Regions from separate parts of the Homo sapiens genome. Here all the other regions are reported to be linked to region 1. The links are microRNA targets in miRTarBase. Many come from high-throughput screens and were not tested one by one. Region 1 holds a microRNA gene; each other region holds the end of a gene's coding sequence.

Evidence for each region. The annotated mature microRNA hsa-miR-124-3p reads UAAGGCACGCGGUGAAUGCCAA and lies in region 1 at 1,444-1,465, shown strand. An mRNA with a match to its seed (bases 2 to 7 or 8) in the 3' UTR can be bound and repressed. Matches are read on the target gene's strand: a 7mer-m8 pairs with bases 2 to 8, a 7mer-A1 pairs with bases 2 to 7 and ends in A, and an 8mer does both.
Region 2: miRTarBase lists CAPN11 as a target of hsa-miR-124-3p. The part of its 3' UTR that is shown has no 7-base or 8-base seed match.
Region 3: miRTarBase lists ACADVL as a target of hsa-miR-124-3p. Seed matches in the 3' UTR shown: 7mer-m8 at 3,713-3,719.
Region 4: the mRNA of CHSY3 is a reported target of hsa-miR-124-3p. The part of its 3' UTR that is shown has no 7-base or 8-base seed match.
Region 5: the mRNA of NFKBIZ is a reported target of hsa-miR-124-3p. Seed matches in the 3' UTR shown: 7mer-A1 at 482-488 and 7mer-A1 at 1,457-1,463.
Region 6: miRTarBase lists FLOT1 as a target of hsa-miR-124-3p. Seed matches in the 3' UTR shown: 7mer-m8 at 3,536-3,542.
Region 7: the mRNA of PRPH is a reported target of hsa-miR-124-3p. The part of its 3' UTR that is shown has no 7-base or 8-base seed match.

What each region holds. Positions count from the first base shown.
Region 1 is chr8:64,377,767-64,381,832 of GRCh38, forward strand. MIR124-2 (microRNA 124-2) reads left to right here and starts at 1,383; the gene lies at 1,383-1,491. It overlaps MIR124-2HG (MIR124-2 host gene), which reads left to right. Exons shown (of 3, transcript NR_109792.1): 2 at 293-723; 3 at 3,837-4,066.
Region 2 is chr6:44,183,384-44,187,449 of GRCh38, reverse strand. It overlaps CAPN11 (calpain 11), which reads right to left. Exons shown (of 23, transcript NM_007058.4): 22 at 3,687-3,745; 23 at 3,049-3,544. The coding sequence ends at 3,518. It overlaps LOC105375072 (a long non-coding RNA gene), which reads right to left and starts at 1,467. Exons shown (of 3, transcript XR_926835.2): 1 at 1,392-1,467; 2 at 570-642.
Region 3 is chr17:7,224,781-7,228,846 of GRCh38, reverse strand. It overlaps ACADVL (acyl-CoA dehydrogenase very long chain), which reads right to left. Exons shown (of 20, transcript NM_000018.4): 19 at 3,963-4,038; 20 at 3,581-3,890. The coding sequence ends at 3,750. DVL2 (dishevelled segment polarity protein 2) reads left to right here. Exons shown (of 15, transcript NM_004422.3): 10 at 803-870; 11 at 1,064-1,192; 12 at 1,312-1,443; 13 at 1,578-1,757; 14 at 2,208-2,426; 15 at 2,534-3,505. The coding sequence ends at 2,982. Among named protein-coding and RNA genes, the nearest start is that of MIR324, 3.4 kb to the right of the region's middle. RefSeq lists an enhancer at 3,392-3,891.
Region 4 is chr5:130,185,078-130,189,143 of GRCh38, reverse strand. It overlaps CHSY3 (chondroitin sulfate synthase 3), which reads right to left. Exons shown (of 3, transcript NM_175856.5): 3 at 2,510-4,066. The coding sequence ends at 3,353. Among named protein-coding and RNA genes, the nearest start is that of CHSY3-AS1, 280 kb to the right of the region's middle.
Region 5 is chr3:101,858,967-101,863,032 of GRCh38, forward strand. It overlaps NFKBIZ (NFKB inhibitor zeta), which reads left to right. Exons shown (of 12, transcript NM_031419.4): 12 at 352-2,056. The coding sequence ends at 405. Among named protein-coding and RNA genes, the nearest start is that of NFKBIZ, 11 kb to the left of the region's middle.
Region 6 is chr6:30,724,434-30,728,499 of GRCh38, forward strand. FLOT1 (flotillin 1) reads right to left here. Exons shown (of 13, transcript NM_005803.4): 13 at 3,276-3,712. The coding sequence ends at 3,683. TUBB (tubulin beta class I) reads left to right here. Exons shown (of 4, transcript NM_178014.4): 4 at 1-989. Among named protein-coding and RNA genes, the nearest start is that of TUBB, 6.1 kb to the left of the region's middle.
Region 7 is chr12:49,297,885-49,301,950 of GRCh38, forward strand. It overlaps PRPH (peripherin), which reads left to right. Exons shown (of 9, transcript NM_006262.4): 8 at 74-153; 9 at 404-802. The coding sequence ends at 469. The region is part of intron 4 of TROAP-AS1 (TROAP and PRPH antisense RNA 1); the gene reads right to left. Among named protein-coding and RNA genes, the nearest start is that of PRPH, 4.8 kb to the left of the region's middle.

The sequences.
Region 1 (4,066 bases):
GCAGTATCCGCAGCGCATGCACCCTCCTCTGGACTTCCGCAGCCCAGACCTGCGCTTACAGTCATCGCGCCACCCCCTCCCCCCGGGCTGCGGGCCCCGCGCTCCGTGGGCTCAGGGTCCCCTCCGCGTCCCCCTGAAGCCTGGGGACGGAGGTCGCGACCGGCCGACTGGGGTCCTGTCCTCTTGTCACCTTGTATCCCTCGCATGCTCCCTCCCGCCTCGTGTCCCTCTCCCCACCCTCCCCCTCCTCTCTCCCGCCTCCCTAACACTGCGCTTTGATTCTGTTTTTCAGGGGCGCATTCTGGGGTCTCTGCGCAAGACCAGCTCTCAGCTCTCTCTCCTTTCCTCGGACTCTGGAGCGGGAGCGGGCCTTTCCCTCGGGTCGACCACGCCGTAGGGGACGCCGTGAAAAGAGCCGTCGCGCCCGCTGCCTCCTGCCCGCTGCGCAGAGGGCTCCGCCCGTAGAGGTCAACTTCCCTCACCCTTTTCTCTCTCCTGCTTGCCCTCCCTCCGCCCGGCCCAGGCGCTTCCAGCCCCAGACTGTGGCCACTGGCTGAGGAGTGCGAGTCGGCTGCGCTGCCCTGAGCCTAATCCCTCTTCCGGGCCCAGACCCGAGGTCCGCGCTCCTGGGCAGTGGGGAAGCTTTAGTGAGCAGGCTTTTCTCTCCGCAGCAAACTTGTAGCCAGACCAGATGGGCCGCCCAGCTCTCTCGGGACTAGGCAGGTGCGGATGAGTTAATTTTTCCGCATTACAAAGAAAGATGACCCAGCCCGCCCTTGGACTCTCTTTTCCCAAAATCTCCCAACCAAACCCGCGGTAACGTTATCAAAGGACACAGAGCCCAGGCATATCTGTGTGTTTATCTTACAGGCACACACGCATGGTTTTCTCTTTTATATGCTAGATTTCATCCCTGACAGCAGAAAATGATTGGCAATGGTTATGACGGAGAACATGCAATAGCGTGGTCCTTAAAAACCTGCCATTCCTTACAAGTGCCTTAGAAAGGATTCAGGGCGAACCAACTGGGTTAATTGCATTCAGTAAAATAACACGATTACAAAATTAGATCTGTACCAGAGGGGTAATTAACTTGGATCCACGCCGTCATTTGAAAACTAGATTTATAGGCTTATGTATGTTTTTAGGCGTGTGCTGTAAATGGCATGGAGATATATGCATATGTATACGCAGGCACACGCACCGTCTACACTTCCACGGAACAGACTAATTAACAGCGGCTCTGGCAGATGTGTCAGAGATGAGCAGAGACAGGAGCTGGGCTTATGAGTTATGACTCTAGGGGTAGAGACTCAGAGCGGAGAGAGGGGGATGGGCAGGGAGAGAAGAGTGGTAATCGCAGTGGGTCTTATACTTTCCGGATCAAGATTAGAGGCTCTGCTCTCCGTGTTCACAGCGGACCTTGATTTAATGTCATACAATTAAGGCACGCGGTGAATGCCAAGAGCGGAGCCTACGGCTGCACTTGAAGGACACCAAAGCATCTCAGGGTCAGAAAGGGGAAAAAGCAATTGCAGGGAATTTAGGGGGTAGTAAAAGGAACCCATCTCTTGCCGCATAAATGCCCCCCACCCCCACCCAGGACTGATTCTGGAAGCAACCTAGTGTTCGAAAGGGAAAGGCTCCTACTTTTCCATTACAGCCGCGGAAATCCGCAGGCAAATCTCCGAGGAGAATTTTAGGGAAGCTTCATTGACAGCTGTCTGGAGAGCAGTAGTTCCCGCCTGTGCAAATATTCCAGAGAGTTAAATCATTTAGAAAGCACTAGTTCTTTCAAGAACAGGTAGTGTGATTGTCTGCAGTCCTGGGCCAAGCTGGGAAAACAAAACAGCAGAGAGAGGTGTAACATTAAATAGCGTCCTGACCACACTGCGCAAGAAACAGCAAATGAAACGTCCAAACTTTGGAAAGATCTGAAGAACACTTGCCGCCCGCATTTCCCCTTGACTTCTCCCTTTTTCTTCCCAATCTCGAGGCGTTCATGCCTGGCTTTAAGACGCCAAGATAACTCTCTTGTTTTGGCATTGTCGCAATGTCCAAATCGGTCAAAGGAGTGGGATAAGGTGAAAGGACCAGGTCAGAAACTTTAGAAGGACTCGGTAAATTAATTTGTTTGGAAGCCAGTGAGGTGGACTATGTTGAGGTAGCAGTTCCGCACCACGACTTTGGAGCCAAAGAAAAACCCAGGCCGAAAAAGCGAGCCTTGATGTCTTTGTTCTGCCTTGGCCTGCAGGGGTTGGGAACAAAGGAGAGGAGCTAAGAGGATGCACCAAAGTAGCCGCGCCCTCCCTGCCTGGCGCTGTCCGCGGTGCTGACCGTGGCCCTTTTCTCTCTCCGTAATCAAACTGGAAAAGCAATAGGACCGTCCCGTCCCTACTCAAAAGAAGAGTAGGATATTAGGTAATTTGAAAAATAACATTTAAAAAGAGAAAAAGGTCACATACAGCAAAACAATATTTTACTGAAATCGTTCCCTCAAGCTGGTTGCTACCCTTGCCTGACACTTTTTGGTCTTCACGTAGGAATGCACACATACATACATTGTAAGTGTATGGGGAAACCATTTCCACTTTATTTAGGCTGAAACCTAAATCGCAGGATTGCAAGAAGGAAATTGAGGAGAATGAAGGCTTTATTATTATCCTTTTCTTTCTTAAATCATCTTCCTTAAAACAGAAACATAAGGTCCTCAGCCGCGGATTTTAGTGCTTACTTGGTCACCAAAGGGACGTGCAATGGACTCAAGTGTGGGCCTCGAGGCTTAACTAGGAAGGGGTGGGTCGGGGACCCACCAGGTGAAACAGGGCAGGAGCCCATGCAGCTTGCCACCTTCGGCCAGGCCTTGCAGCCCGGCAGCCTTAGTAGACGGGTACAGAGGGCTGAGCTCTGCAGACCGCTCTGCTGCGCAGGAGCCTGCTCGGCGCATCCCAGCCGGCGGGAGGCACTGGAGGGCCAGGAGGCCTGAAACCCGCACTGCGGAAAAACCGACCTCAGCCACATCCTCATAGCTCACGCGACGGAAAGAGGCAGGGCGGTTTACTAAATCTTATGCAGTGAAAATTCGCCTTAGAAATCGAAGGTTGGATGAGTCAGTATTGATATATTCAAAAATCTAAATTTCTTAGCATATTTCATCGTTCTTAGATGTTGAAAGTATTAAATGTAAACAATACAAATTTAAATTCCCTAAGTAATGAATCAAAATGGCAAGGGAGAGAGAGAGAGAGAGAGACGGAAAATCAACCAATTCGTAGCCACCCTGGCTGGCTATTTCTCAAAAGAAATTTCTATGCATTTGCTTGAGTTTGTCTATAAATTCACAAACATAAAGGGTGTTAAAATTAGTAACAGACAAAATAATTCAGGTTGGACAATAGAGACAGCAACACCGATTTTGATCCAGGTATAACAATGGGCCATGCATTGACAATGACCTAAAAGACATGTGTTCATTAAGTTATTTTTTTTACACGGGATGTAGATGTATCATAAAATTCATGAAATAAAGCGGCCAGGTGCAATATCCTCAGAGAGCTGCCTTCTCACCCCCTGCCTCAGGGCGGATTTTATCTGTCCTCGAATTTTAGAACTCTGCAAGTCGGGTCTTTCACATTCATCGATTACTTTGGTTTATATTTAATTTTATCCAATTTCGGAGTGGGTGGGTAAAGCACACTGGAAAATAGGGGCTGCTCGAATTACAAAATTTAAGGATTGGGAATATTCCTCTTGTGCCAATTAAAAGCAGTCGTTGGAAGCAGAAATGAATTTAAAGCATTACACGTTATCATGGCGGCCTTGCTTTTTCCTTCCAGTATTCATCCAATTGCGCTGATCTCCTGCATCCACATCTTGCGTAATCCACAAAGCAGCTATGGTCCAGGGCTGCAAAATCGTCCTGCCTGATTCCTTTAGAATTCATACTACCTCAGAGGAGCAAACCTAATCCCCTCAGCCTAATCCTACCTGTTTAGGATCATCTAAACTTGTCCTTCAGAAAGCTTGATCAGTTTAAAATTGCTTTCTAAATAGAAATGAAATACGT
Region 2 (4,066 bases), not on the chromosome of region 1:
CATTTCACTGCAGCCTCGACCTCCTGGACTCAAGTGATCCTCCCACTTCAGCTCCCCACACAGCTGGGACCACATGTGTGCGCCACCAGTCCTGGCTAACTTTTTCTTTTCTTTTTTTGAGATAGTCTCACTCTGTCACCCAGGCTGGAGTGCAGTGGCACAATCTCAGCTCACTGCAACCTCCGCCTCCCGGGTTCAAGCGATTCTTATGCCTCAGCCTCCCGAGTAGCTGTGACTACAGCCGTGTGCCACCACGCCTGGCTATTTTTTGTATTTTTAGTAGAGATGGGGTTTCACCATGTTGGCCAGGCTGGTCTTGAATTTCTGGCCTCAAGTGATCTGCCCACCTCAGCCTCACAAAGTGCTGGGGTTATAGGTGTGAGCCACTGTACCCAGCCTAAAAATCCACTTGTAACTGCTGCTAATCGGGATGTATATTCAGAATAATTTGAATCTATTCTCCAGGGTTACAATCCTTAAGTTTAGCCCAAATAAACTCTCTACTTATGTGAAGTTTGCTTCATTTTATGTTTACAGAGTGTTCGTGAGTAACCAGCTTTGTTACAAACCGGAAGGGATAGTCCTGATTTGAGAGTTTTCTGCTTCCTTTCCATCCTGGCTTGAAGTTGGCAGCATTTCACCCTAGGCCATGGAACAAGAGGTGGGGTCAGCATCTTCCTAGGGTTCCCAGAACCAATCCGGACTGCCCGGGACCTCTCAGAGTCTCAAAGGACCTGCTAGGTTTTTGTTTTTAAAAGATGGAGTCCCCGTGTTGCCCAGGCTGGTCTCAAACTCCTCAGCCTCCCGAGTAGCTGGGATTACAGGCATGTGCCACCATGCCCAGCATGGACCTGTTAGCTTGAGGCTCTCACTGACCTCTCCCTGCTCTCTCTGGGGACTTTTGCTCATCACTCAGAGAAGCTCTGTGGAGAGCAGGTGGTGGCTGCCATCTCTTAGAGAGAGAGGGAGGACGACAAGTGGGAGAACAGTCTTTCAAAGAGGCTCCAAAGAGAGTGTGACCTATTCTTTCAGGCAGGACTGGAGACGGAGAGGAAGCAGGGAGGGCTGACAGGACAGGAAACGATTCCTCTGAAGGCGGCGTGGGGTGGTGATAATGGAGGGAAGGCGGCTTTATATCCAGGCAGACTAGCTTTAGTCTTTGAAGTCACAAAGAAGGCAGGGGCCAGGGCTGGTGCAGACAATCAGTCACCAGATTAAGGAAGATCAGAATCCCACCTGCCTCACTAAGCACACAAGGGCTGGGTTTAGTGCACGTGGAAGGAAGCTAGCGACCCCAGGAAGCTGCACAGGTACACAGAGACAGGAAGGGTTTAGCTTCATTGGGGATGACAGATCTCTAATCTAGGGGAAGTTGGGGGTGCTGTCTCTACCTGAGAGGCTGAGAAGCGCATGTGCTTGGGCTCCAGTGTCCCTGCCAGAAACCAGAAGGGGAGGCTGTGGAGGGCTCTGGAAGGACAGGAGGAGAAGTACAGTTTAGGGGCTGCTGTGAGTGGCCTGGGTGTTCTCACTACTGCAGGGGGCTGGGGCTGGAGTTGGGGTGTGGGCACCTGGGACAGAGACCCCGAGGTCAAAAACAGGTGGACCCAGAAATAAGTGTTTCTTCCATGCCTCCTGCAAGGACAGTAGCTTGACAAGCAACAAATTTCTTTTTTTTTTTTAATTTTCTTTTTAATTCTCAGCAAGGCAAGTTACTTCTATATAGAAGCGTGCGCCCTTATAGATGGAACAATGGTGAGCACACATTTGGACAAGGGAGGGGAAGGGGTTCTTATCCCTGATGCACGTGGCCCCTGCTGCTGTGTCGTTCCCCTATTGGCTAGGGTTAGACCGCACAGGCTAAACTAATTCTGATTGACTAATTTAAAGAGACTGACAGGGTGAGTGCTTTGGTGGGAGTCAGGGCAGAGCAGGTAGCAGGTGATTGGAATAAATTAGGGTGGAGCAGGTGATCGGAATGAGTCAGGGTGGAATAGGTAATTGAAAAGGTTGCTTTACGAGGAAGTGAAGTTTAAAAATAGAAGGCAAAGAATTGAACATACTGACATATTAATTCTTTGAAAAGAAATTTAGAACTCATATCTAACAATCCCTCCCCTTGTATTTCCTTACAGCTTTCTTTTCATACTTTTTTTTTTTTTAACATGTCTTGACTTAGTTGCTTTGCTTGATTTTCTAAAAGAAGAAGCTTCTCTGGATAAGGTGGAGGATAGTTAAGGGAGGTTTTAGTAAGTGGACAGGCAACAAATTTCTAACAATAATAATAATGATTTGAATCTGAACACCTTTAAGGCAGGAACGAGTTCACCTATTGCCACAGTCCTCAGCCTTCCCAGTCCCACACGAGGAGGATTTGTTCATTTATTTATTTAAATTGTTTTTGAGACAGAGTCTTGCTCTGTCACCCAGGCTGGAGTGAAGTGGTATGATCTTGTCTCACTGCAACCTCCACCCCCCAGGTTCAAGCAGTTCTCCTGCCTCAGCCTCCCAAGTAGCTGGGATTATAGGCGCGTGCCACTACGGCCAGCTAAGTTTTGTATTTTTAGCAGAGACGGAGTTTTGCCATGTTGGCCAGGGTGGTCTCAAACTCCTGACCTCAGGTGATCCACCTGCGTTGGCCTCCCAGAGTGCTGGGATTACAGGCGTGAGCCACCGCGCCCGGCAGTTCGTTCATTTATGTGACCTGCTGGCTGCAGGTGTCAGATTTTTAACCTTCGAGGCTCCTGCAGTGCCACCTTTGGGGACCCCAGTTTGAAGCAGCAGATGAGAGTCCTGGAGCCCTGGCTCAGCCCCCGTAGAAGCGCTCCACCATAGGGCACACCACACAGTTCTTCACAGGGAGGGACTTGTGTGCTTAGCATCTGGCACTGCCCATAAACGCCAACTATGGCCTCTAGTTATTGTGACAACTGCACATTTCTATATGCTCCCTATCACCCTTGGCTGAGAGCTACCCAATCCTTTGGTCCTGGGTAAGTGACTTCCACCCTTGCCAGTCTTTTCTTGGCATAAAAACACAGAGACATGGAAGCCAATGGCATGTGCTATTTATTAGAATAGTATCCACAGATGGGGAGGAAAACAGAGGCTGTGCCAGGATGGGTGGTCAGCAGGTAGGTGTGAGCAGGACAGCAAGCATGGAGGGTAAGAAACGGGCTACAAGTCCCTTCCCTATTCTTGGCCTCCCCAGCCAGGGGGACCCTGGGGAAGCATCAACTACTCTTTAGTAAAATATACTCTGAGAGAGCGATGGTGGGGGAAAGCCAGCCATCAGAAGCCGGGTTGGGGAAAAAAGAGAAAGCCTCTGAGCTGGGGGAGTGGGCACGGAGGTCCCACTGCTGCAGTAAACACGGCACCTGGGACCCGGGCACTGCCACCTGGAGCCCATTTCATCAGCAGAGACCGGAGAGCTGAGGGCTACAAGAAGCACCCCACCCTCCTGGGCTAGAACCTCGCTGCTGCTGCTGCTGGTAGAGATGACCAGGCTCCTACAGCGCCTCTATCCCCACATGGTCATCTGCAGCCACTGTGGAGACAGGAAGCAGATCCCAGGGTGGGAAGAGACGGGGGCAGGATGCTGGCCCGGGGACATCAGAGCTGGGTGGGGGTGGGGTTGAGGGGCAGGCAGGTGCAATCCTGCAGATTCCTTCCCACCCTTCTCCAAGTACCTGTTCCAGGCTCAAGCAAATATGGCCAGTATTCTTGGGGTCCATGGTTAGAAAGAATGCTGCGTTACAGAGGAAGCGGGGGAGAGGGGCTGAATGCTAAGTCAGTGTTCCGAAAGAACCACTCCCAACTAGGTAGGAAGGGGCGACACCAGGTGTTCCTGGCTGTTCCCCACATAAATCCCCTAGCCAAGTGGGGAATTAATGATAGCAACTCACATAGCCTCACCAGGAGCCAGGCCCAGTTCTGATTGCCTTCCATAGACTAACTGGTTTAACCTGCACCTCAGTCCTTTGAGGGCAGTACTATTATTATCCACATTCTAAAGAGGAGGGAATGGAGGCACAGAAAGATTAAGTGACTTGCTCAAGTCACCTCTGCC
Region 3 (4,066 bases), not on the chromosome of region 1:
ACTTTGGGAGGCCCAGATGGGTGGATCACCTGAGGTGAGGAGTTCGAGACCAGCCTGACCAATGTGGTGAAACCGTGTCTCTACTAAAAATAGAAAAATTAAGTGGGCATGGTGGCACATGCCTGTAGTCCCAGCTAGTGAGGTGGCTGAGACAGGAGAATCACTTGAACCCTGGGGGGTGGAGGTTGCAGTGAAACGAGATCACGCCACTGCACTCCAGCCTGGGCGACAGAGCAAGACTCCGTCTCAAAAAAAAAAAAAAGTGCTAAGACATAACGTTCAAAGTACATGAAACAAATGCATGACATAGCAAATAATACTAGAGTAAATATCCATGTCACTGCCATCTAGATCATCAAATAGGAGATTGCTGATACCCTAGAACTTCCTCCTCAGATGTCCCTTCCTGCTCCCAAATGCCTCACTGCCCCAGGGGTAGTCACTCTCCTGACTTCTTTGGCCATCACCATAACAAAGAAAAGCTTTGCCTCACTGGATAGTTACCACCCTTGCACGTATCCTTGAACACTGCAGTTTCGTTTTACCTGTTTTTGGACTTTCTGTGAATGGAACTGTACAGCGTGTACTCTCTTGTCTCACTTGGCAGTATGTTTTTAAGAGTTTTCCATGTTGATGAGTCATCCACATTGTGGTGCCTTCCACCCTCACCTTCTCTAGCCCAGCCGCGATGTGCTTGCTTCTCCCCCTCTTTGTGTCTCTTAATCCATCCTTGCTTCAGACCCCCGCCCTCCTGAGGCCTCCTCTTCCCCTGCGCCCTTGACTGGACTTCTCTTCCCCATAGCCCCATTGTGCTGACTGTGGCCAAGTGCTGGGATCCCTCTCCTCAGGCCTATTTCACTCTCCCCCGAAGTGAGTGACACTCAGGGAGGGGCCTGAAGTTGGGGGTGGGGGCTGCCCAGGAGGCTGGGGCCGGGCCTGTGGTCATGGGGAATGGGTGGGAGGAGGGTCCAGGCAGAGGTGGAACAGGAGGCTGAGTCAGGGAGGGACTGGGCTGGCTTTTGGGGACTGAGAATGGGTCATTTTGGTGCCATCTTTGTCCCAGATGAGCCCATCCAGCCAATTGACCCTGCTGCCTGGGTGTCCCATTCCGCGGCTCTGACTGGCACCTTCCCAGCCTATCCAGGTTCCTCCTCCATGAGCACCATTACATCTGGATCGTCTTTGCCTGATGGTGAGCCGCCAGCCCACCTCATCCCACCCTCCCAGCAGAAGGCTGTCCCGCAGTGGTCTGATCCATTGCCCTTGTGGGAGCGATCCCTGACTCTGGTTACCCGTTGTCTCCTCTGCCAGGCTGTGAAGGCCGGGGTCTCTCCGTCCATACGGACATGGCATCGGTGACCAAGGCCATGGCAGCTCCAGAGTCTGGACTGGAAGTCCGGGACCGCATGTGGCTCAAGATCACCATCCCTAATGCCTTTCTGGGTATGGCTGGGTCCTGGGCAGGTGGCTGGAGAAGGGGAGGAGGTGGTGACCAAAGCCAGGAATGGCACAGGCAGAGGCGAGAGCAGGAGTTGGAAGAAGAACCTGAGGCCTTTTTCCACTGTGGGTGCTCCCAGGCTCGGATGTGGTTGACTGGCTCTACCATCACGTGGAGGGCTTTCCTGAGCGGCGGGAGGCCCGCAAGTATGCCAGCGGGCTGCTCAAAGCAGGCCTGATCCGACACACCGTCAACAAGATCACCTTCTCTGAGCAGTGCTATTACGTCTTCGGAGACCTCAGTGGTGGCTGTGAGAGCTGTAAGTCCCCCTGCCCCAACTCTGGGAGTGTGGCTTTGCCTACCTTGTTCTGCCTCTCCAACCCTAGACCTAGCCCAGAAACCGCAGCCAGGGCCACCATGGATGGTCGAGCAGTGTGTGTCCCGCACTAGGTCCTGCACTGGCCGAGGATGGGGGCTGACGTCCACCCATGTGCTGCTGGACAAGCCATGTGCCAGGTGCAGGACTGTGTCCACCGGGGGAAGGTGCACCTCTTACCTGAGTCCCGCAAAGACGTGGGCTAGTGGCTGTGCCCCTGCCCTCATGGCAGAAGTAGATGGGAGTTTCTTGTCAGAGACCCTTGTGAACCCCTGTTTTGAGCCCCATCGTGGGTGGGTCTGGGAGAACTGTTCCCAGTTCCTCTCCATTCGGTGTCTTGGGGCCCTAGCCTCTTGAAGCAGTGATTTCTTCCTCTCTTCCCTTGCTTTCCAGACCTAGTCAACCTGTCTCTCAATGACAACGATGGCTCCAGTGGGGCTTCAGACCAGGATACCCTGGCTCCTCTGCCTGGGGCCACCCCCTGGCCCCTGCTGCCCACTTTCTCCTACCAATACCCTGCCCCACACCCCTACAGCCCGCAGCCTCCACCCTACCATGAGCTTTCATCTTACACCTATGGTGGGGGCAGTGCCAGCAGCCAGCATAGTGAGGGTAAGTCATCCCCACATACCTGTACGGCCAGGATCTGAGGGTGGATGAGAGGGGAGCCAGGGAGGAGCCTGGGTGAGGACTCAGTTGCCCCTCCCCTCCCTCCACAGGCAGCCGGAGCAGTGGGTCGACACGGAGTGATGGGGGGGCAGGGCGCACGGGGAGGCCCGAGGAGCGGGCCCCCGAGTCCAAGTCCGGCAGTGGCAGTGAGTCTGAGCCCTCCAGCCGAGGGGGCAGCCTTCGGCGGGGTGGGGAAGCAAGTGGGACTAGCGATGGGGGCCCTCCTCCATCCAGAGGCTCAACTGGGGGTGCCCCTAATCTCCGAGCCCACCCAGGGCTCCATCCCTATGGACCGCCCCCTGGCATGGCCCTCCCCTACAACCCCATGATGGTGGTCATGATGCCCCCACCTCCACCTCCAGTCCCTCCAGCAGTGCAGCCTCCGGGGGCCCCTCCAGTCAGAGACCTGGGCTCTGTGCCCCCAGAACTGACAGCCAGCCGCCAAAGCTTCCACATGGCCATGGGCAATCCCAGCGAGTTCTTTGTGGATGTTATGTAGCCCACTGTGGGGCCAGGCTGGGCCGGGCGCTCCTGGTGTGTGACTGGGTGTCCTGGCCGTCATGTGCTTGCTCTTACAGTGCCTGGGCTCAGCCTACCAGCTGCTGCCATACAGGAGATTGTGGCCACTGTGACTCTCACCAGCAGTGCCTGGTTCCTCCCCCTTCCCTCAGGGGTAGACAAGGGACCTTTGATTATTTTTAGCTTTGTTTTTTTATAAGCCTTTTTGGGGGTTAAAATAGAGTTTCTTACATTTTTGGGACTTTTTTAATAGGCATTTCCTCTTTTATATGAAGAATTCCCATCCATTGGGCCCCTTCTAACCCCAGAATGTGACCTCCTCCTCCAGTTACCCACAGCCCTGCCCTTTGCAGGGTTGGGGGTGGTCAGCGGTACCCCGGGGTTAGGCATCCTAGACAGCAGCCTGAGGAAGCTGGGAGATTTGGGCCATGTAGCTGCCTTTGTTACTCTATTTATTTTAGTCACTTGTATAAAACACCAAATAAAGCAATAGAGGCAAACTCCCCACGCCTCTGGCTCCTTTCTTTGGGAGGGAGGCAGGCAGCAGGGGGAAAGAACCGTCACACAGGAGCAAAGCATGACTGGCTAGAAATTTTTATTATTTGCGAGGCAGTAAGTGCTCTTGAGAGCAGGCACAGTGCTGGGAACACTAGGCCCCTTCGGGACAAACCAGGGCCTTAAGGAAAGGGGCTTCGGCTTTGGCTTGAGGGAAGGCACATAACTGGGACAGGCCCTGGCCGGGAGTATTCAGAAGCCAAGTGGGTTGCTGGTGACCACACCACCCCGCTCCACCAAGGCCTTGGAGATGCTTTTGAAGTTGCGGTAGAGCTCTTGCTGCCAGGGGTCAGACTGCAGGGCGGCCATGCCCTCTCGGATCCGAGCTGCAGCCTGGGGAGAGGGAAGGAGGGGTTGGGCCTGCACCTCCAGCCCTCACCTGAGCTTGGCAGCCCCGAGTCTCACCTCGATACACCAGGTGTCACAGAGCATTTTCTCATGCTGGGCCGTGGGGTGGCCCTCACTCAGGGATCTTGAGGCCCTGGCAGGAAGCAGGAGATGAAAATAAA
Region 4 (4,066 bases), not on the chromosome of region 1:
CTAGCCATAATGGGCTCAACTCTTAAATTCAGAACTATTTCAGCACTGACAACATTGCTTATACCAAGTCTGTATGAGTAAAGTGACAGAAACAGTCAAGCAATTATTTGGTGATGTTCATCAGTGTGAACAGTTTCTACACTCAGGGGCTGAGATGATGTAGAAGGGATATTGTTGGCATCAGAAATTCTGGAAAGTTTTTTTCCTTGCTGAAGTTCAGTGATGTTTGAGCAGGTAGACAGAAAAACCCTAACCTTCCCTGACACAGTGGTGCACAGAAGGATCTAGCAAAATGGTAGACGCTTGAGATTAAATCCTGAAGAGGCTTTAACTGAGCAAATATCTGCAAATTTAGCTCGGTCCAGAAAGAGTATTCAGCAGGAGCAAGCTGACTAGTGGATCTCACATGTGCATGATGTCAGGAGGCCCTTCCCCCCTCCGTTGTTTTCTACATCCCTCCAGCAACTGAGAAACCATGGGGTAGAGTGAAAAAACAGGTGCTTCATTCAGACAGGCTTTTGCTTAAATCTTACCTCTACAGCATGCCAACTGTGTGAACCCGGGACAAGTTACTTAACCATGGTGGCTTCAGTTTCCATATCTGTTTAATGAAGAAAGTAATACCGATATTCTGAGAGCTGTTCTGAGGATTACACTTAAAAATAAAATGCATAGTGTGGTGCTGAGTGGACAGCAGATGATCAGTAATATGACATTGAATGCTGATGAAATTATTCTTGGGGTGACATTGAAACAGAACATCTACAGCCATCCAAATAAGGTAACACTACAATGTATGGACTACTTCACATGCATATATTGTGCTTTTTTGGTTGCATTCATAGTGTGTTGCCCTTCAAACTTAAAGGCTTTAGGTAATTGATACTACACGGATAGAAAAACACTCAATTTTACTATATCATTCTCCCCATATTTTCAGTCAGGTAATACTGCATTGCCTGAAGAAGATTATATGAAGGCTGAATGCAAAATTATATAATAGATTTAAAATGCACATATACTAGCAGTATAGTGTATACATGTGTGATTAAGTTCAAATGAGATCTCTGCATTCCCTTGGTTCATCAGCATGTTTTCATCATGTAATACAGAATGCCACTTCATCCCCTGGCAGCTGCTTCATAACTCTCTAAGTCTTGGAATGTTTTAAACTAGGCCTTTACATTTATTACCTCTGTGAAGCTCCTTCGTATTTCATTTGTCTGAGTTAAAGATCAGTCCCTGATTTCCTTTCTTCATTAACAAAATACTTAATACTTATTATTTGGTAATAGATCTTCCCAAATGACTATGTTTGCTGAATGCTAATATATTTACTGTTCAGGAAAATAAAACCTGCAAGACAGCGAGGTCTTGTAATATGGGAAAGTAAGTTATTAGAGTGAGGGTTTGTGAAAGCCAGAGACAATATTAGAGCAGAGATCAATTTTGAATTGTTTGCCCTGTCAAGATGAGCATTTTAACATCTAAAGATGCCATTAATTATTTTCTAATGAATTTGACAGTATTAGGATTACAAGTTATAGTCAAGGATACTGCCATCCTGTTTGTCCTAATATTAAGCAATGATATTTGTTAAGGATCCCAAAATGTCTTCAGTAAAAGAGGCTGTCAACATGTAAGGAATACATCACCAAGGCAAATGATATGTGGCCTCATGGCATTCAGTTAAAAATAATGGCAACAATTTACAACAATCACTTTCAAATCAATTTTGATGCAAATTATTTTTCCATTAAGTAGAAACAGAACATCAAAGTGCACAACAATATGTATAATATGCTGCATTTTGTGTATAGAGGGTTAAAAAAGTAAAATGTGTGCTTCAGAAACTCTAGAAAGACATGCACAAAACACTCACACAGCCCAAACAATGGTCATGTGTAGTCAGGTGACAGATATGGGTGGATGGGGAGTGAGGCCAACAGCTTTAGGCATTTAAAAATTTTGTTTGATTTTGGAACCATGCAAATGTATTACCTATTTACAAAATAAGATTTTATAATATGCCTTAATGACACTCCATTGGATGGATGTTCATTTTCTCTTACACTTCTTTAATCCAATTATGCTTTTCTAGAAACTGGACACCACTGATCCAGGTCAAAGAAAGAATGATATGTAAAACTAAATGAGATATTTCCTGACGTATTTTTAATAATTATAAAATTGATGTCATATTAATAATTTCTCCAGTGACTTTTGAGATACCTACCAACCCATATTAAAGGCAATTTTTGAACTGTTCTTGGGTCAGCTTGATCCCAAAGCTGAAGAGATTGAGGAAGGATGTTTCTCCCAGATGGTAAATTATTGAGTAAAGAAATTGCTCAGTTTAATCACTTATGAAGGCTAGGTTTTCCAGTATAATAAAACAAACAGCATACCATAATCCCTTGTTAACTTTTCAAGCTGCTCAGCAAGCATGTTTTGGTGAATATGAACAGAAACATATCAAGTGTGAATAAAAGGAAACAACAAAACCTTGTCAGTGTTTTTGAAAAAGAATACTGCTATACCTGTGTTTTATTTTAAATAAACAGGTTCTGTCATATTTTATCTTCTTGCCAGCAAATGAAGGACATTGTTTCATAAAGCTTCTAAAATGTACATGAATATTTAATTAAATCATATTTCCTTGAGAAAATAAAGTTCATTCGCATTTATAGCAGACAGTTGTGAGGAGCTCATAATTGTCATAAGACCAGGGTAGCCAGTACCGGTTGCTTGTGGAACAAAACTCCTCAATTTTTAAAACTTTTTTTAAAAAATAAACATACAATCATAGGTATTCATTTACTTTAAAAATTCTAAAGATGAAGAAAATTATTGTTTATATATTTAAGTCCTTGTATAAATTACAAAACTCAAGTTTATGTTACAGAGTCCCTTCCCCATAGGAAGCATAAAGCACTTTTGTGGTACCTTTCACCAGTAAATATTTGTATCACATTGAATTTGAGAAACCAAATAAAAGTCGATATTGCATCTTTAAGCCCCAAGAGAACATTCTTCTAAGCTGTCTCTTGTGATGAATGCGTTTCAAAAGTCATTTGATTGCTATGATTTAACTCAATCTCAAATAAAGTTATATAAAAGTAATAACATATTGACTTCAGTAGAAATCTGAAACATCAGTGAACTGCAGACTCTTCTTGCTTGAGGTCAACAAACACCCTTAGGAAGACAACCAAGAGTAGTTTAAGACCAGGACAACAAAATAAAATTATAACAATAATAATAATAAAATAACAATAATACAATAAAAATAACAACAACCAACAATGAGGTAAACTCCCCTTAAAAAAGGCAAAATGTGTTGCCTGGACTGTCAGGAGAGAGTTCGATTGTACCTGACACCTAAATGTTTTTCAAGCCAGAGTTCAGCCAGTTGCATGGTTGAGGCGAAAGTACTTGCCTTGGATCCTAAGCACATCTTATACTGCTTAGGGTCCAAGTTAGGATCACAATGAACTGGATGGAAAATATGCACCACTCCTACTTCTTGGCTTCTGAATGGCCTTAAGCCAGATAGAATGACTTTATTGTAGAGATCTACATCTTCTAGTCCCCAGCCTTGTATTGAGGTATCAAATCCACCTGCACCTAGAAGATCACTTTTGTAAATACAGGTGATGCCATATCCATAGTCTCTCCAAAATCCAGTCTTTTTTGAGAATATGAAGTAATCATCAGTGGGAGGATTTCCCCCGTTTGTTACCTTTGGGTCATACTGGCTAAAGATGATGGGATAGTACACCTGTTGTCCCTGAATTGTATTGTCTCTACATCGTTGGAGAAAATCTTCTCTGAAGATCAAGTCAACATCACAAAATAGCAGCAAAGTGTCATTGTCAAACTGGGCAGAAGCCATTTCAAGACCAAGACCTCTGGAAAACTCTCCCTTCATTGGGATCAGGGTCATTTCTGCTTTGGGGTACTTGTTCTGGTACCCTTTTATCAGCTCAATATGCTTGCTGGAGTCTTGGCCAGAATCCCTACTGAAAAGGATAATGACCAACTTTACATTCTGCTTTGGGATAAG
Region 5 (4,066 bases), not on the chromosome of region 1:
TAATTACTGTCTTATGTTAAATGTTCTCACAAATAGCAAGAGTAAAGATTAGGAAAAGAATATAGGTGTTAAGTTTATGGAGATTTTCAACTTCAGATAATTTTTAGTGGAGATGTTTTACTTTCTTGAACTCAAAGATTATTATAAGAGATCTGAAATAAGTTTAAAAGGAGTTTAGTATTTTTAAAAGTCACCTCAAAATCTTGAGAAATATTGTGTGTATTTCTTCGTATACTTACAAGTTAATAGGAGTAGTGTAGATGGTATAAGAAAGGAATGAAACTCAGAAGGAAATACACCACATTGGCCATAAGAAATAAACCTCACAAATTTTATTTGTTTCTCTTCCAGATCCGACGTATCCTGAAGGGAAAGTCCATTCAGCAGAGAGCTCCACCGTATTAGCTCCATTAGCTTGGAGCCTGGCTAGCAACACTCACTGTCAGTTAGGCAGTCCTGATGTATCTGTACATAGACCATTTGCCTTATATTGGCAAATGTAAGTTGTTTCTATGAAACAAACATATTTAGTTCACTATTATATAGTGGGTTATATTAAAAGAAAAGAAGAAAAATATCTAATTTCTCTTGGCAGATTTGCATATTTCATACCCAGGTATCTGGGATCTAGACATCTGAATTTGATCTCAATGGTAACATTGCCTTCAATTAACAGTAGCTTTTGAGTAGGAAAGGACTTTGATTTGTGGCACAAAACATTATTAATATAGCTATTGACAGTTTCAAAGCAGGTAAATTGTAAATGTTTCTTTAAGAAAAAGCATGTGAAAGGAAAAAGGTAAATACAGCATTGAGGCTTCATTTGGCCTTAGTCCCTGGGAGTTACTGGCGTTGGACAGGCTTCAGTCATTGGACTAGATGAAAGGTGTCCATGGTTAGAATTTGATCTTTGCAAACTGTATATAATTGTTATTTTTGTCCTTAAAAATATTGTACATACTTGGTTGTTAACATGGTCATATTTGAAATGTATAAGTCCATAAAATAGAAAAGAACAAGTGAATTGTTGCTATTTAAAAAAATTTTACAATTCTTACTAAGGAGTTTTTATTGTGTAATCACTAAGTCTTTGTAGATAAAGCAGATGGGGAGTTACGGAGTTGTTCCTTTACTGGCTGAAAGATATATTCGAATTGTAAAGATGCTTTTTCTCATGCATTGAAATTATACATTATTTGTAGGGAATTGCATGCTTTTTTTTTTTTTTCTCCCGAGACAGGGTCTTGCTCTGGCGCCCAGGCTGGAGTACAGTGGCATGATCTTGGCTCACTTCAGCCTTGACTTGGGCTCAAGTGATCCTCCTACCTGAGCCTTCTGAGTAACTGGAACTACAGGTGTGCACTCCTCGCCTGGCTAATTTTTTATTTTTTGTACAGGCAGGATCTTGCCACCTTGCCCAGGCTGGTCTTGAACTCCTGAGCTCATGCCATCTGCCTGCCTTAGTCTCCCAAAATGCTGGGATTACAGGAGTGAGCCACCATGCCCGGCTGGCAGTTGCATGGAAGAGAACACCTCTTTATGGCTTACCCTCTAGAATTTCTAATTTATGTGTTCTGTTGAAATTTTTGTTTTTTTACCTTTATTGAAACAACAAAAAGTCAGTATTGAAACATATCTTCCTGTTTTCTGTTGTCAAATGATGATAATGTGCCATGATGTTTTATATATATCATTCAGAAAAAGTTTTATTTTTTAATAACATTCTATTAACATTATTTTGCTTGCCGCTGGCATGCCTGAGGAATGTATTTGGCTTTGATTACACACTAAGTTTTTGTAATAAATTTGACTCATTAAAAACCTTTTTTTTTTAAAAAAAAAAAAAAAGAAAATCTCATTAGTGAACTTATCTTTGCAGCTGAGTACTTAAATTCTTTTTAAAAAGATACCCTTTGGATTGATCACATTGTTTGACCCAGTATGTCTTGTAGACACGTTAGTTATAATCACCTTGTATCTCTAAATATGGTGTGATATGAACCAGTCCATTCACATTGGAAAAACTGATGGTTTTAAATAAACTAATTCACTAATATTATTTGTCTTACATGCATTTTCTTTTCCTAGTGCCTTATTTCCCTAGATAGAAAAAGTACTATTGATGATTTTAAATACCTTTGAGTTAGTTAATTTATGTTAATTTGGGTTTTTTGGAGAACATGTTTCCTGAAAGTATACAAGATTTAACATCAAAATCTATTTGCTAAGTTTACTAGGAGAAGTCTGTTAGGTTTTGAAATTATCATGGAAGTTTAATAGATGCTGTCGATCATTCACATGTTTAGATGCTTAAAAAAAAAAAAAAAAGCTAAGTGGGAGCAGTGAATCATAGGAATAACAGTTTGGAGATTACCAGGATCATCCTTAGAGAGATGTAAACCTGGGAAAGGTTCTTCCCTTTGCCAGCAAGCCATTTTGACGTGTGAGAACAAACACATCAATATCTGTCAGTATGTTGTTACAATTATTGCACATATATTCTAGTTCTTACAGCTGTTTTGAGAATCTGGTGAAAGCTATGAATCCTTTCCCTGGAAAATGCAAATATATGTATACACACAAATGCTGTGTGCAATATTTGGGGCTTCACAACCTTTAGAAGACCATGACTCACAAGAATCCACTTTAGTTTCATTTCTGCACATACTTTTCTTCTTTCGTATAACAAAATCTTGGGTAATTTGCTTTGCAAATGCAACTTGTTAACCAGAACAGCAGAAATGATGTACTCCCACTGAACATAGCCCTACAGTGAGCTTTACCCAAGTGAGCTTCTATGTTCTCTCTTAATCCCAAATTCTCTCATAGTTGAACCAGTATCTAGCAAGTATGTTTGTGTGTGCGTGTGTGTGTGTGCAAAGATGTAAATAATTTGAGGCTAAGACATATAAGACATTTCTTAGCCTTAAGATGTTTACGTGAGAGACATGGCATGTACTTTATTAGGTAAACTATGTTAAATAGCATTTAAAAAGAGATTCAGAAGGGACATTTCTTTCTGACTGGGGAGGATTCAAGGTAGAGCATTTGAACTGTATCTTCTGAATAGTTGATTTGGATGTTCATATAAAGGGAGGAGAGGCAGATGAAAGAAACAAACAGCATGAACCAAAGCATAGGCGTCTGTGGGAATAGCAGGTGATTTTAATATAGTTAGTTAGACTCTGGAAGTGGCCAATAAGGTTCATCTTGTGTTCCACCTCTGACTGGTAATATTTTTGAGTATCAAGTTGAGAAAGATCCTCAGGCTCGTAGGGGCTTCAGGAGAAGGTTGCTGGATTGAACCTTCAGGAGAGGTTGCTGTGATTGGTGCGTGATATCTGCCACAGGAATATGGGAAATGGCTCTTGATTGAATACATCTTAAAGCCTCACAGAAGCCAAGACTGTGTGCTCATTGCTGCAACTTCAGTGCCTAGCACAGTGCCTGGCACATGGAAATAGTTCATAAAATATTGGTTGAATGAACGAATATATGCCAATCCTGGTTAGAGTCACTGGTTTTGTTGGGGGAGGTGATGTTTTGAGCCAGAGTTATACTATTAATTACTAATGAATTATTGGCTATCATGGTTCTGAATTTAATTCTGCCACATGATTTCACAGTGACATGGATGATATGTTAATGAAAATGGGCATGGGCATAGTTGGACTCATTAAGGAAAAAAATCAGGCAGTCTGTCTTTGCAAAGGACTGTTAGTGCTGTAGTTTGATATTGACTAAGGAATCCCTACAAGAGTCAGAGACCAAATCTTCCAGCTCAATTTGTTAGTCAAATCAGTAACATTTAATATCCTTTCTATATTTTTACTTAATCAGGACAGGAAAATTTCCTCAAATGTCTCTGACTTTTAACAAATGTCAACTTAAACATACGACCACTAACTTCCATTTTCTGATAACCTCAGTTGTTCTGTATTGAATACGACCTCAGAGAGAAATCAGCTTCAGTCACTGGCTAAGTTTGTGATGGTTCCTCTGAGATCAGGCCTGGGTACAAGGTTTGAGATTACTTGTAACCATGCTACTAGGTTTTGGCTATACC
Region 6 (4,066 bases), not on the chromosome of region 1:
TTAGCCGTCTTACTCAACTGCCCCTTTCCTCTCCCTCAGAATTTGTGTTTGCTGCCTCTATCTTGTTTTTTGTTTTTTCTTCTGGGGGGGGTCTAGAACAGTGCCTGGCACATAGTAGGCGCTCAATAAATACTTGTTTGTTGAATGTCTCCTCTCTCTTTCCACTCTGGGAAACCTAGGTTTCTGCCATTCTGGGTGACCCTGTATTTCTTTCTGGTGCCCATTCCATTTGTCCAGTTAATACTTCCTCTTAAAAATCTCCAAGAAGCTGGGTCTCCAGATCCCATTTAGAACCAACCAGGTGCTGAAAACACATGTAGATAATGGCCATCATCCTAAGCCCAAAGTAGAAAATGGTAGAAGGTAGTGGGTAGAAGTCACTATATAAGGAAGGGGATGGGATTTTCCATTCTAAAAGTTTTGGAGAGGGAAATCCAGGCTATTAAAGTCACTAAATTTCTAAGTATGTCCATTTCCCATCTCAGCTTCAAGGGAGGTGTCAGCAGTATTATCTCCACTTTCAATCTCCCTCCAAGCTCTACTCTGGAGGAGTCTGTCCCACTCTGTCAAGTGGAATCCTTCCCTTTCCAACTCTACCTCCCTCACTCAGCTCCTTTCCCCTGATCAGAGAAAGGGATCAAGGGGGTTGGGAGGGGGGAAAGAGACCAGCCTTGGTCCCTAAGCCTCCAGAAACGTCTTCTTAATCCCCACCTTTTCTTACTCCCAAAAAAGAATGAACACCCCTGACTCTGGAGTGGTGTATACTGCCACATCAGTGTTTGAGTCAGTCCCCAGAGGAGAGGGGAACCCTCCTCCATCTTTTTTGCAACATCTCATTTCTTCCTTTTGCTGTTGCTTCCCCCCTCACACACTTGGTTTTGTTCTATCCTACATTTGAGATTTCTATTTTATGTTGAACTTGCTGCTTTTTTTCATATTGAAAAGATGACATCGCCCCAAGAGCCAAAAATAAATGGGAATTGAAAAAAGCTGCGAGATGTGTGCTTATTTAGGGAAACACGGCTGGCTGATGGAGGCATGGGGCCTGAGTTCAGTTGCACTGCTCTCCTTAAATTGACACTTAATATTGAGTCCCTGTCCTACGGATTCAACCAACTGGATATTGGGAAAAGAGTTGTACTGGACATGTATAGACTTCTCATTATTCCCTAAACAATAATAGTATAAATTATTTACATAATATTTGCATTAGATTAGGTATTACAAGTAACGTAGAGATGATTTGAAGTACACAGGTTATATGCAAGTACTACATTTTATATGAGGGACTTGGGTGTCTGCCGATTTGGTATCTCAGGGAGGTACTGGTAAGGACACTGACTGCTTTATAGACCCTCACATCATTGTTTCTGGTACCCAAACTGCTCTGAGCACCAGTCAGTCTTTACTGTAGTCTCTGACAGCTCACTACAGCCTTGATGTCCTGGGCTCAAACAATCCATCTCATTCTCCCAAGCAGCTGGGACTGTAGGCATAAGCCAGGTGAGCCAGTGCACCAGGCCCACCAATGAGTCTTAACTGGGGAAGGCATAGGCTTAGATGCAGGATCCAGGGATGGAAAATGGAAGCTGAGAAGAATGACAAATCACGTGTAACTGGTTTCCAGACCAGCATCCACATCCTCTGGGAACTTGCAGAAATAAATGCAAGTTTTTCATCCCACCCAGATGTACTGAACCATAAATGGTTGAACTGGCCTTGGCCACCCAGCCCAGGATTCCTTTGGGTTATGTGTACCCATGGCCATTTCCTGTGATCCTGTGGGCTTAGTCAACCTATGACACCAAGATAACTAGTGAAGCCCTGGTATGGTGGCTCCCACTTGTAATCCCAGCACTCTGGGGGGCCGAGGCAGGAGGATGGCTTGAGCCCAGGAGTTCCACACCAGCCTGGGCAGCAGTGAACCATCTAACAAAAAAAAAAGCTGGGCATGGTGGTGCATGCCTGTAGTCCCAGCTGCTGGGGTAGAGGGGGGTGGTGGTTGTTGGGGGTAGGGGGGTGGGGATTGGATGGGAGGATTGCCTGAGCCTGGGAGGTAGAGGCTGCAATGAGCCCTGACCCTACCCCTGCACCCCAGCCTGGGTGACAGAGCAAGACCTTGTCTTTTTTTTTCTTTTTTCTTGAGATGGAGTCTTGCTATGTTGCCCAGGTTGGAGCACATTGGCGCGATCTTGGCTCGCTACAACCTCTGCCTCCCGGGTTCAAGGAATTCTGCCTCAGCTTCCCAAGTAGCTGGGATTACAGGCACCCACCATCACGCCGGGCTAATTTTTGTATTTTAGTAGAGATGGGGTTTCACCACGTTGGCCAGGACTGGTCTCAAACTCCTGACCTCAAGTGATCCACCCGTCTCAGCCTCCCAAAAAGTTCTGGGACTACAAGCATGAGCCACCGTGCCCGGCCCAAGCCCAAGACCTTGTCTTTAAAAAAAAAAAAGGATAACTAGGCGGGATTGCTACCTTATGGTCCCATTCTAAAACAATCTGTACCATCTACTACCTCATACTTTTAAGTTCACAATGCAAGTCTCAAAGCTACCCTGAAAACAATAATTCCTTTTGCCATGTTTTCAGGAATTCTAGGAACTAGTATTATTCCCAACATTCCTTCTATTTTAGCATGCTTTTCTGACTATAATACACTGTTGGGGGGAAAAATTAACTCTAAAACTCTTGACAGTATATAAGTAACTTGCTTTTCTCCCATTCTAGAAAGCCTATTGTATGCAAGAAAGCCTATTGTATGCAAGGGAAGAAGCTACATTCTAGCATTCATTTTCTTTCTAATAGAGCCAGGATCTTGCTTTGTCACCCAGGCTGGAATGCAGTGGTGTGATCATGGCTCACTACAGCCTTAGACTCCTGAGCTCAAGTGATCCTCCCACCTTAGCCTCCCAAGTAGCTAGGACTATAGGCAAGAGTCACCATACCTGAGTCTAGCATTCATTTTTTTTCTCTTTTTTTTTGAAACAGTCTCACTCTGTCACCTAGGCTAGAGTGCAGTGGTGCGATCTTGGCTCACTGCAACCTCTGCTTCCCAGGTTCAAGTAATTCTCCTGCCTCAGCCTCCCAAGTAGCTGGGACTACTACTTGGCATGTTTCACCCTGCCTGGCTAATTTTTGTATTTTTGGTAGAGACAAGGTTTCGTCATGTTGGCCAGGCTGGTCTTGAACTCCTGACCTCAGATGATCTGCCTGCCTTGGCCTCCCAAAGTGCTGGGATTACAGGCATGAGCCACTGTGCCGGGCCAAGCATTAATTTCCAGTTGCTTCTGTTTTATTAGTACTTACTTACAGCAATTTATTTGGGTAGCAAAGTTGAAAACCTCCAGCCCATCCCTCAGTCTTGGTCAGGAAAATATTCTAGACAACAGGCTCAAACAGTCTGATTTAATTAGGAAGTTAAATAAGTTGAGGTGGGGTGGAGTGGGATCATCAGAAGGCTGACATGGGACCGCTGGAGTTGGCAATCATAGCAGTGTGAGGTTGGCAAGGGGAGCAACCCCCTTCAAGACAAGGCACAAACTATTTGGCAAGGAGAGATGAGGGGTGGGACCTCACTGTCAATGGACATGCTCAGGGAGGCCAGTGGGTTACATGCAACAGGAGGATCATTCAGGCAACTTCAGCTATGAGGCTGGGCATCTGTGAGGGCTGAAGGCTCAGGCTGTTCTCAAAGGCTTGTGATTCACCTGGCAAAAAGACAACAGTAGATGACACTTGGGAACATTCGGGAGGCTGAGGCCCCTACTCTCCCGGGCCCCAGTTTAGACGAATGGGCTATAGGCAGAACACACACGGCCAGGGTTCTTTCTGGTGCCCTACCACCTGTTTCCCCAAACAAAGACATCAGGACCCACATACAATAAATCACTGAAGAGAGGAGAGGGGGCAGAGCCTTGTTTGCACACTCTCCTTAGCTCTGAATATTCTACTGCAGGCCTCCAGGAGGCTCCAAGGAACCCAGCTTGAAGGTCATTGGTATGATCCAGTGCTTTTATTTACATACGCTTTTTTTTTTTCTTTTTTTTTTTGAGACGGAATCT
Region 7 (4,066 bases), not on the chromosome of region 1:
GGATAGCAGTGGGAGCCTAAGAGGAGAGATTCCCACGCCTTCCCCCTTGAACCCTTTATCCTGCTTTCTTCAGTGCCTGAGGTGGAGCCTCCCCAGGACAGCCACAGCCGGAAGACGGTTCTGATCAAGACCATTGAGACCCGGAATGGGGAGGTGAGGCAGGTCCCCTAATGCCAGGACCCCACCATTTCCCATATTATTTCTGAGCCCCAGCCTGGCTGTCGCTAATCTTACTTAGGGTGGGTAATTCTTGGGGAGAGACAGAGAAGGAGACAGAGAACGTGGATAGATAACCAGGAGCCTCTGCTGGTTACCCCAGGGAGTGGGGCTCTATGATCCAAAGGAGTAGGATGGAGGGTGGCGCTGAATGGCTTGTGCCCATCATATGCCCTGTCCCCAGCAGGTGGTGACAGAGTCCCAGAAGGAGCAGCGCAGTGAGCTGGACAAGTCTTCTGCCCACAGTTACTGAACCCCTTGGTCCGGAGCCTTGACTCTGCCCTAGGCCTGCTCAAAGCCCAAACCCTAAGACCACTCCTGAATTGTCTCCTCTCCCTCTGCATGTGTCTAAAAGGTGGTACCAGGCATCCCTTTCCTGGCTTATGGCCAAGCCCTACCCGGCCAGCAGTCGCTGGGCCTCTCCCTGCCCTGACACTTGATGTGACCTATGTGCTTCCCTTTTCATGTCCCGATAAGAAGCCAATGATCCCCCCTCAGGACAAATCTACTCCAGCCACGATGAGAAGTGGGTGAGCCAGGGTCTGAGTTTCACATTTGAACCAAATAAAATGCTGTCAAGAGAAAACTCTCCAGTGCATTTGTTTCTGTGGAAGTGTGTGTGCGGTACCTGAGGGGAGGAGCCTCGGCGGTGTTCTCCCTTTGTCTCGAGTCATTTCTTTTCTGGCTGTCACTCTCTTGGCATCAATATACCCTTCTAGGTTTTCTACCTCTGTCCATTCCTTTTCAGCTTTTGTCCCTCACCTGCAGCCTGGAATGCCCAGCCACCTGCTGGGTGCCTCACAGGCCACTCAAACTCAACCTGTCCCAAACAGAGCTCCTCACCTCCCTCTGCAATCATGCTCTTCCTCTGGATTCCTTGCCCCAGAAGAAGGCACCACTAAGACACCTAGTGCCCAAGTTAGAATTCACCTCAGCTTATGCACCCTTCTTTTCTTCACCTGACCCCAAATTCTGTGAAGTCTACTTCTTTTGTTATTTAAAAAATTTTAATAGGCTGGGCGCGGTGGCTCACGCCTGTAATCCCAGCACTTTGAGAGGCCGAGGCAGGTGGATCATGAGGTCAGGAGATCAAGACCATCCTGGCTAACATGGTGAAACCTTGTCTCTACTAAAACTACAAAAAAATGGCCGGGCGTGGTGGCTCACACCTGTAATCCCAGCACTTTGGGAGGCCAAGGCGGGTGGATCACTTGAGGTCAGGAGTTCAAGAAGAGCCTGGCCAACATGGTGAAACCCTGTCTCTACTAAAAATAAAAAAATTAGCTGGGTGTGATGGCGGGTGCCTGTAATCCCAGCCACTTGGGAGGCTGAGGCAGGAGAATCGCTTGAACCTGGGAGGCGGAGGTTGTAGTGAGCCGAGATCGCACCACTGCACTCCAGCCTGGGCAACAGAGCGAAACTCTGTCTCAAATAATAATAATAAGAAGAAGAAGAAGAAGAAGAAGAAGAAGAAGAAGAAGCCCGGTGGCCAGGCACGGTGGCTCATGCCTGTAATCCCAGCACTTTGGGAGGCCAAGGCGGGCGGATCACGAGGTCAGGAGATCGAGACCATCCTGGCTAACATGGTGAAACCCCGTTTCTACTAAAAAAAAATACAAAAAATTAGCCAGGCATGGTGGCGGGCACCTGTAGTCCCAGCTACTCCGGAGGCTGAGGCAGAAGAATGGTGTGAACCCAGGAGGCGGAGCTTGCAATGAGCTGAGATCATACCACTGTACTCCAGCCTGGGCAACAGAGCGAGACTCCGTCTCAAAAAAAAAAAAAAAATAGCCAGGCGTAGTGGCACGCGCCTGTAGTCTCAGCTACTTGGGAGGCTGAGGCAGAAGAATCACTTGAACCCAGGAGGCAGAGGTTGCAGCAAGCCGAGACCGTGCCACTGCACTCCAGCCTGGGCAACAGAGCGAGACTCCATCTCAAAAAAAAAATATATATATATATACACACACACATTTATTTATTTATTTATTTATTTATTTATTTATTGAGATGGAGTTTTGCTCTTGTTGCCCAGGCTGGAGTGCAGTGGCTCAGTCTCCACTCACTGCAAACTCCATCTCCCGGGTTCAAGCAATTCTCCTGCCTCAGCCTCCCAAATACCTGAGATTACAGGTGTGCACCACCATGCCCAGCTAATTTTGTAAAGTTTTTTTAGTAGAGACAGGGTTTCACCATGTTGGTCAGGCTGGTCTCGAACCCCTGACCTCAGGTGATTCACCCACCTCGGCCTCCCAAAGTGCTGGGATTACAGGCGTGAGCCACTGCACCCGGCCAAAAATAATTTTTTTTTTTTTTTTTTTTGAGATGGAGTCTTGCTCTGTCACCCAGGCTGGAGTGCAGTGGGGCAATCTCGGCTCACTGCAAGCTCCGCCTCCTGGGTTCATGTCATTCTCCTGCCTCAGCCTCCCAAGTAGCTGGGACTACAGGCGCCTGCCACCACACCCAGCTAATTTTTTTGTATTTTTAGTAGAGACGGGGTTTCGCCGTGTTAGCCAGGATGGTCTCCATCTCCTGACCTCATGATCTGCTCACCTCGGCCTCCCAAAATGCTGGGAATACAGGAGTGAGCCACCTCGCCCAGCCCAAAAAATAATTTTTAAATTTGCTTCATGAGATGGGGTCTTGCTATGTCACCCAGGCTGGTATTGAACTCCTGGGCTCAAATGATCCTCCTGCCTCAGCTGCCCAAAGTAATGCTAGGATTACAGGCACAAGACATCATGTCAGGCTTTTTTTTTTTTTTTGAGACGGTCTCACTCTGCCACCCAGGCTGGAGTGCAGTGGCACCATCATAGCTCACTGCAACCTTGACCTCCTGGGTTCAAGTGATCCTCCCACCTCAGCCTCTTGAGTAGCTGGGACCACAGAAACTTGCCACCACTCATAGCAAATTTTTCCATTTTTTGTAGCGATAAGGCCTCCCTATGTTGCTTAGGCTGGTCTCAAACTCCTGGGCGCAAGTGATCCTCCCACCTCAGCCTCCCAAAATGCTGGGATTACAGGCATGAGCCACTGTGCCTGGTATGAAGTCTACTTCTTAACTCTCTTTCAAGTCTGTCTGGTTCTCTCCATCCCCATTACCAACATCTTAGTCCAGGCCAGCATCATATCTTGCGTGGGTCACATTATCTACATTATCAATGGTTTCCTTCCCCTGGCCTGCTCTGCCACCTGCCCAAATCTATTCAATACCCTTAGTAAATCAGATTATGCCATCACCATCCCTGCCTCTGCTTGAAAATGTCTATTTCCTGACCAGGTGTGGAGACTCATGCCTGTAATCCCAGCACTTTGGGTGGCCAAGGTGGGAGGATGGTTTGAGGCCAGGAGTTCGAGACCAGCCTCAGCAACACAGAGAGACCCCATTTCTACAAAAATTAAAATATTAGCCGGGCATGGTGGCATGAGCCTGTGGTCCCAGCTACTTGGGAGGCTGAGGTAGGAGGATCACTGGAGCCCAGGTCGTGGTTGCAGTGAGCCAAGAAAAGTGCCACTGCACTTCAGCCTGGGTGATAAAGTAAGACCCTGTCTCCACAAAAAGAAAAAAAGAAAAAAAAGAAACACCCATGCTGTCTTCCAACTTCCAACTCCATTCCTCCATTCCGTCCTACCCTTGCCTTCAAGTCAAAATTCACATCTGAATTTAAGATGATCTTCTTCACTCAGCTATGGTGCTAGGTGCAATGAATAAGTCAGAGTCCCTGATCTCAAGGAATTTACAGTTTGGGGTGGGGGAGACAGGCAACATAAGCAGACAATTTCAACCTCCTGAGGAGTGCTGTCTGGGATACTAAGCAGATAGTGGTGTTGATATGAAGATAAGCACCTAAGC